Linked DNA regions of Homo sapiens. The protein of the gene in region 2 purifies or fractionates together with the protein of the main gene of each other region. This does not show direct contact. Each region holds a gene or a part of one and is shown on either strand. Other genes may lie near its edges.

Evidence for each region. Proteins that work in one complex are often made in the same cells at the same time.
Region 1: the proteins of ZNF611 (region 2) and IPO7 purify together in Homo sapiens (co-immunoprecipitation; one large-scale study listed by IntAct). This does not show direct contact.

Annotation. Positions count from the first base shown.
Region 1 is NC_000011.10:9,443,239-9,446,139, reverse strand, and holds part of IPO7 (importin-7), read right to left. Parts: intron 1,044-2,901; coding exon 946-1,043; 3' UTR 1-945. UniProt on the Homo sapiens protein: Functions in nuclear protein import, either by acting as autonomous nuclear transport receptor or as an adapter-like protein in association with the importin-beta subunit KPNB1.
Region 2 is NC_000019.10:52,710,588-52,714,914, forward strand, and holds part of ZNF611 (zinc finger protein 611), read right to left. Parts: intron 3,555-4,327; coding exon 3,428-3,554; intron 1-3,427. UniProt on the Homo sapiens protein: May be involved in transcriptional regulation.

The sequences.
Region 1 (2,901 bases), on a different chromosome or scaffold from region 2:
CCAATTTACATGCTCTAGATACCACCTTTTTTATTTTTTACAGTAAGGTCTGGTATTCAAATACCCACTTGTACACTGACAGCTTTAAGAAAAACAGGACACAGAGGGAGTTGTCATTTTTAGCAGCAATGAAATACCACTAACCCCTTTTTACATACCGAATTCAAGTCACTATCAGAGGTGAGTGCACCACAAAGTCACCAGGTACAAAATTGCTAGTTCATTTTTAAATTAATAACTTGAAATTACCCCTGCCCCCCACCCCATTACATCTTTTTATAAACAGCAAACATTTTGCTATTTTATACATAGGCTAGCAGGCTTGTTTCAATATGAAAGTGCTAATTCATTTACAGATTTTTATAATCAGTTATGTAGTGCTACAATAAATGTCCAATAATCTACATAGGAACAATGATGAAAATGATGAAGACTGAATAAGGCTATCAGATGACCTTATCTTATTTACATATAAAGAATAGATACCCAATGGTGAGGAAGAGACAGAAATTGGACAAATACTCATAGGTGTAAAAATTACATCTACCTTTGAGTTTTATACTGTAAATGAGACATTTTAAATAGTCCTGTAGCCCATGCCTATTTTTTCCTCAGAAAAAGAAAAGCTGCCTTCATGACATCCCCTCGTTTCAGATTTCCACAGTGTCACTTTGAAGCTTCAGAGTCAGGATCTTACTTTCTTCAAAAAATAAAGAAAATACTCCCTCTAAGGTACCTCCCATCCCCCCCCACCCCCAAAATCCCGCTGATTTCTTTTCCAGTGCCAGGTTGCATGATCAGGTCCCATCTCCTGGGGTTGTTGTTTCTTTTGTCCATCTATTGATTATTAGTTTAGAATAGATAACATGAACCAGTTCTGGAACCACTACTAGGAGGAACACAAGCTCTTCACTACAAGCACACAGCAGGAAAGAAAGAGATAACTCAATTCATCCCTGGTGCTGGGCCTCCAAAATTGAAAGAACTTGGCACAACTGGAGCACTGAATTTGTATCCTCCATGCTTCTCAATCATTTTGGATTCTAGAAAACAAATAAAATTTTAGTAGGGCATTCAATCATCTACTAACTTGGTGAGAAACTGACAAAACATTAAACAAGCCAGTAGCTTAACCATCATTAGTGGCCAGGAAGTTCCAAAATCCATGATTTCTCCAATGTATAAGGGCAAGGGAGCATGCATTATGTAGAGAATATAATCTCTTTTACTGTATGCTGTAGACTTCTTAGCCAATTTTCACTTCCCACTGTTAAGAAAAAAATCTTTTTTTTTTTTTTTTTTTGAGACAGAGTCTGGCTCTGTCACCCAGGCTGGAGTGCAGCGGCACGATCTTGGCTCACTGCAATCTCTGCCTCCCAGGTGCAAGCGATTCTCTCCTGCCTTAGCCTCCCAAGTAGCTGGGACTACAAGTGCGTGCCACCACGCCCGGGTAATTTTTTGTATTTTTAGTAGAGGCAGGGTTTCACCATGTTGGCCAGGTTGGTCTAGAACTCCCGACCTCAAGTGATCCATCCGCCTCAGGAGTCAGGAGTTTTTGAGACCAGCCTGGCCAACATAGTGAAACCTCGTCTCTACTAAAAATACAAAAATTAGTTGGGTGTGGTGGTGCGTGCCTGCAATCTCAGCTACTCGGAAGCTGAGGCACGAGAATCACTTGAAATCGGGAGATGGAGGTGGCAGTGAGCCGAGATTGCACCACTGCACTCCAGCCTGGGTGACAGTGTCACTCAAACAAATAAATAAAATAATTTTTTTAATTTATAAAAAAAAGTCTATAGATAATTGTTTGCATTAACAATGGTGTATAACCTAAAATGTACTTTTGTTTATTTTTTTTTTTAGAGACAGAGTTTCACTCTGTCACCCAGGCTGGAGTGCAGTGGCGCAATGTTGGCTCACTGCAACCTCTGCCTCCCAGGTTCGAGCGATTCTCCTGCCTCTGCTTCCCAAGTAGCTGGGACTACAGGTGTGCACCACCATGTCCAGCTAATTTTTGTGTTTTTTAGTAAAGACAGGGTTTCACTGTATGTTGGCCAGGCTGCTCTCAAACTCCTGACCTCAAGTAATCCGCCAGCCTCAGCCTCCCAAAGTGCTGGGATTATAGGCGTGAGCCACCGCGCCTGGCTTAAAATGTACTTTTAAAAATTGCACACTGAAACATTTAAAGATGAAAAGATATGTCTGGGAGCTATTTAACTTCGTAAGTTTTTACATTTTTGGAGACGGGGTCTCACTCTGGCACCCAGGCTAGAGTACAGTGGCACAATAATGGCTCACTATAACCTACACCTCCCACATTCAAGTGATCCTCCAGCCTCAGCCTCCCAAGTAGCTGGGACTACAGGCATGCACCACCATGCCTGGCTAATTTTATTTTTTGTAGAGATGATGTCTCACTATGTTGCCCAGGCTGGACTTCAACTTCCAAACTCAAGCAACCCTCCTGTCTTGGCCTCCCAAAGTGCTGGGATTACAGGCATGAGCCACCACGCCTGGCCAAGTGTTTAAATTTTTTTTTTTTTTTTTTGAGACGGAGTTTCGCTCTTGTTGCCCAGGCTGGAGTGCAATGGCGCGACCTCGGCTCACCGCAACCTCCACCTCCCGGGTTCAAGCAATTCTCCTGCCTCAGCCTCCCGAGTAGCTGGGATTACAGGCATGCCTACCACGCCTGGCTAATTTTGTATTTGCAGTAGAGATGGGGTTTCTCCACGTTGGTCAGGCTGGTCTCGAACTCTAAACCTCAGGTGATCCACCCGCCTCAGCCTCCCAAAGTGCTGGGATTACAGGTGTGAGCCACTGCGCCCGGCTTAGGTGTTTACATTTTTAACAGAACTTTCTACTATCTAACCATCACCATGAGCTAAAGTTATTGCAAACTGA
Region 2 (4,327 bases):
CTCCTGACCTCAAGCCATCTACCCACCTCAGCCTTTCAAAGTGCTGGAATTAGAGGCCAAAGCCACTGCGGCTGGCCAGTCTAAGCTATTTCTAACAGGACAGTGAAAAGAGTGAGACAGGAAAGGGGGCATCTCATCATCAACATTACTGAGGGCTGACAAATATTATTAAACAAAGGAAGTTGAGTGTGTACTATAAAACTTATATGAAGCCATCTAATAGTACTCATTTGTTTTAAAAAGCAGGTGGATGAATCACTAGTAGAAACTCCATCTCTGCTAAAAATACAGAAATTAGCCAGGCTCGCACCAGGCATAATCCCAGCTACTTGGGGGATTATGTCCTGAGGCAGGACAATCACTTGAACCCAAGAAGTGGAGGTTGCAGTGAGCCGAGACTGCACCACTGCAGTCCAGCCTGGGCAACAAGAGGGAAACTCCATTTAAAAAAAAAAAAAAAAAGGCCAGGCACAGTGGCTCATGCCTGTAATCCCAGTACTTTCGGAGGCTGAGGCAGGTAGATCACTTGAGGTCAGGAGTTCGAGACCAGCCTGGCCAACATGGTGAAACCCCCATCTCTACTAAAAATACAAAACTTGCCAGGCGTGGTGGCACTTGCCTGTAATCCCAGCTTCTCGGGAGGCTGAGGCAGGAGAACCATTTGAATCCGGGAGGTGGAGGTTGCGGTGAACTCAGATTGTGCCATTGCACTTCAGCCTGGGAAACAGGAGCAAAACTCTTTCTCAAACAAAACAAAACTAAACAAAAAACAAAAAAAAAAACCAACCCTGGAGGCAAATTAACATTATTTCTCAAATAATGACAGCAGGCCCACAGTGTTCATGTACATGACCCCAGTTTGCACGTACGGTAAGTGAGGGACAAGACTTGATCCTGGGCATGAAGGATCCCACGACATGTTCTTAGGCACAATAGTCAGCGCAGGCAGGACAGGAAATGACCAGACACAGAAAATATGAGGAGAACAGAAAGAAGTACATCAAGGGGGATACAAGGACTGAGCTGGGACACAAGCGCTGAGCTGCGCTGCTGACAGTGGTTCTGAAGCCATCCCTCATGGATCATGTGCTGAGTCATGATGTCCTGCACACACTGATTTAAGCGGCCTCCTATAATTTTGTCCAGTGGATGAACAAGGTCTTCACTTACTCAGGGAGAGTAGTGTTGGAGGGGAGGGGCTCACGGGGAAATTGGGGTGTTCACTTTTACAAAGTCAATAGGCTGGTATTTGCATCCAGATCAATGTATCATGTGAGTCAAGGCCAGGAAAGGAAGGGCAAGGGTGGACGGCAGGAAGTAATGGGCATGTAGGAGTGAACTTTGTGCATGCACCTCTGTGGGAATATAATTCCACCAAGATAGACCAAATCTTGAGCTTAGAGGAAAGTGGAACTAATTTAGCAAATGGTAACATATTGACCCAAGGTTAAATATGCAAATTACAATATGGGCAAGGGACAAGAATGAAAGAGATCCAACAATGCAGCAGTACGGTGGCCTGAGGTGAAAGCAGTTTTACATCTCTTAAATTGAATGCCTCTGACTTCTAGTTTCAGGCATGTACTCAACAAAATCCTCTGTGTAGATTCCAGAAATGCATACAAACACACACACAAAAAAACAACTAAACTCCATGAAGAGTACAGTAGAGCAATGTAGGAGACCATGGGGGTGAACAAGGATCCCCTGGCTGAGTAGGTAGAGATGTGTTTGTGAAAACAGAGCCAGGCTGAGTGCAGTGGCTTACTTCTGTAATCCCAGCTCATTAGGAAGACGGGTGGGTGGATCATGTTGTCAGGAGTTCAAGACTAGCCTGGCCAGCATGCATGGTGAAACACTGTCTCTACTAAAAAAAAAAAAAAAAAAAAAAAAAAAAAAACATTGGCCGGGCATGGTGATGCACATCTATGACCCCAGCTACTTAGGAGGCTGAGGTAGCAGATTGCTTGAACCCAGGAGGCAGAGGTTGCAGTAAGCTGAGATTGCACCACTGCACTCCAGCATGGGTGACAGAGCAATACTCCGTCTGAAAAAAAAAAAAAGAAAGAAACTGTACCTTTAATAGACATATGGTTTTGCCACATTGTCTAGGCTGGTCTCGAATTCCTGACCTCAGGTGATTCACCCACGCACTTCCAAAGTGCTGGGATTACTGGCATGTGCGACTTCACCCAGCTGACATTATTTATTATAGTAAAGAGAAGAAACCAACCCAGATGTCCATTGACAGATAAATATACGAACAAAATGTGGTACACACATACAGTGGAATATTATTCAGCCTTAAAAACAAACTCGGAAGGGGCCAGGGGCTGTGGCTCATGCCTGTAATCCCAGCACTTTGGGAATCCAAGGCAACTGAATCACGTCAGGCCAGGCTATCAAAATCAGCCTGGCCAACATGGCAAAACTGCCATCTGTAATAGAACTACCAAAAATTAGTCGGGTGTGGTGACACATGCCTGTAATCCCAGCCACTCAAGAGGCTGAGGCAGGAGAGTCGCTTGAACCCAAAAGGAGGAGGTTGCAGTGAGCCAAGATCATGCCACTGCACTCAAGCCTGGGCAACAGAGTGAGACTCTGACTCAAAACAAACAAACAAAAAAACAACAACATAGAAATGAACAAGTTGAAAGCCACTGTGTCTTAAGGAAATGACAGTAGAACTAAACAATGGAAACCTCATTCAACCTCAAAAGCTTCCTCAATAAGATTGATGAAAACCATATCTCTTACAGGGTTGATCCTACAACAAACTGAACATAGGTTTTCTTGTTAAAAATGAACAGTGACACATATTGGTGTGAAAAATGTGACATGAACAAGAGTTCAGTCAAGAGCCTCATACATATGAGGCTGTGAGCCCGAATGATGTCCTCGCTGGGAGGAATTGCAACACCACTGACTGCTGCTTAGAGAAGATGATCATTAGTTTATGGGATGAACATTGTCACAGTGCCAGTGAGAGACGCTTCTGTGATGCTCCTCAAAAACCAGAATGAGCTGGGCATGGTGGCTCACGCCTGTAATCCCAGCACTTTGGGAGGCCGAGGTGGGTGGATCACCTGAGGTCGGGAGTTAGAGACGAGCCTGACCAACATGGAGAAACCCCATCTCTACTAAAAATACAAAATTAGCTGGGTGTGGTCTCGCATGCCTATAATAACAGCTACTCAGGAGGCTGAGGCAGGAGAATCACTTGATCCTGAGGGGCGGAGGTTATGGTGAGCCAAGATCATACCATTGCACTCCAGCCTCGGCAATAGGAGCGAAACACCATCTCAAAAACAAAAAACAAAAAACAAAACCCATGTATGGGGCAAAATCACAAAAGAGGATACAAAGCCAGGATGAGCCAAGATAGACAAGAGCAGACTCCTCATGTCTGCAGGGACATTTTCCTCACCCACAGCCTCCAGGTTCCTGTAGTTCTCCAACATCACTTCCCTGTACAAAGCCCTCTGTGAAGGGTTCAGGCATTTCCACTCTGCCAATGAGAATTCTATAGCCACATCCCGGAAAGTCAAGCGTCCCTAAAATGAAACACACATTTCAACAAAACATTATGGAGTAATGAGTTATCACCTTCACAGAAAATGAGAAATGAGAAAATAAGTATTTATTTGATCAAAGATTATGTTCTGACAAAAGGATGTTAAGGTATTTTTGAATATTTTTTCCCTATAGTTGCGTTTTATTGTAGTTTTCCTTGAAAGATTTTAAGATCCCATAAGTCACTACGGAAATCTCGATTTTATGGACAATATAAAAACTATAAAAATAAAAAGGAAAAACAGGGCCAGGCATGGCAGTTCACGCTTGTAATCCCAACACTTCAGGAGGCCAAGGCGGGCAGATTATTTGCGGTCAAGAGTTCGAGACCAGCCTGGCCAATGTGGTGAAAAACTGTCTCTCCTAAAAATATAAAAATTAGCCGGGCATGGTAGAAGGCACCTGTAATCCCAGCTACACAGGAGGCTGAGGCAGGAGAATCACTTGAACCCGGGAGATGGAGGCTGCAGTGAGCCAAGTTCGCACCACTGCCCTCCATCCTGGGCAACAGACTGACACTCCATCTCAAAAAACAAAACAAAACAAAACAAAAAAACAATGCCGGGCAGTGACTGTCACCTGTAATCCCAGCACTTTGGGAGACCAAGACGGGCAGATAATGTGGTCAAGAGATTGAGACCATCCTGGTCAACATGGCAAAACCATGTCTCTACTAAAAATACAAATATTAGCTGGGTGTTGTGGTGCAGGCCTGTACTCCCAGATACTCAAGAGGCTGAGGCAGGAGGATCGC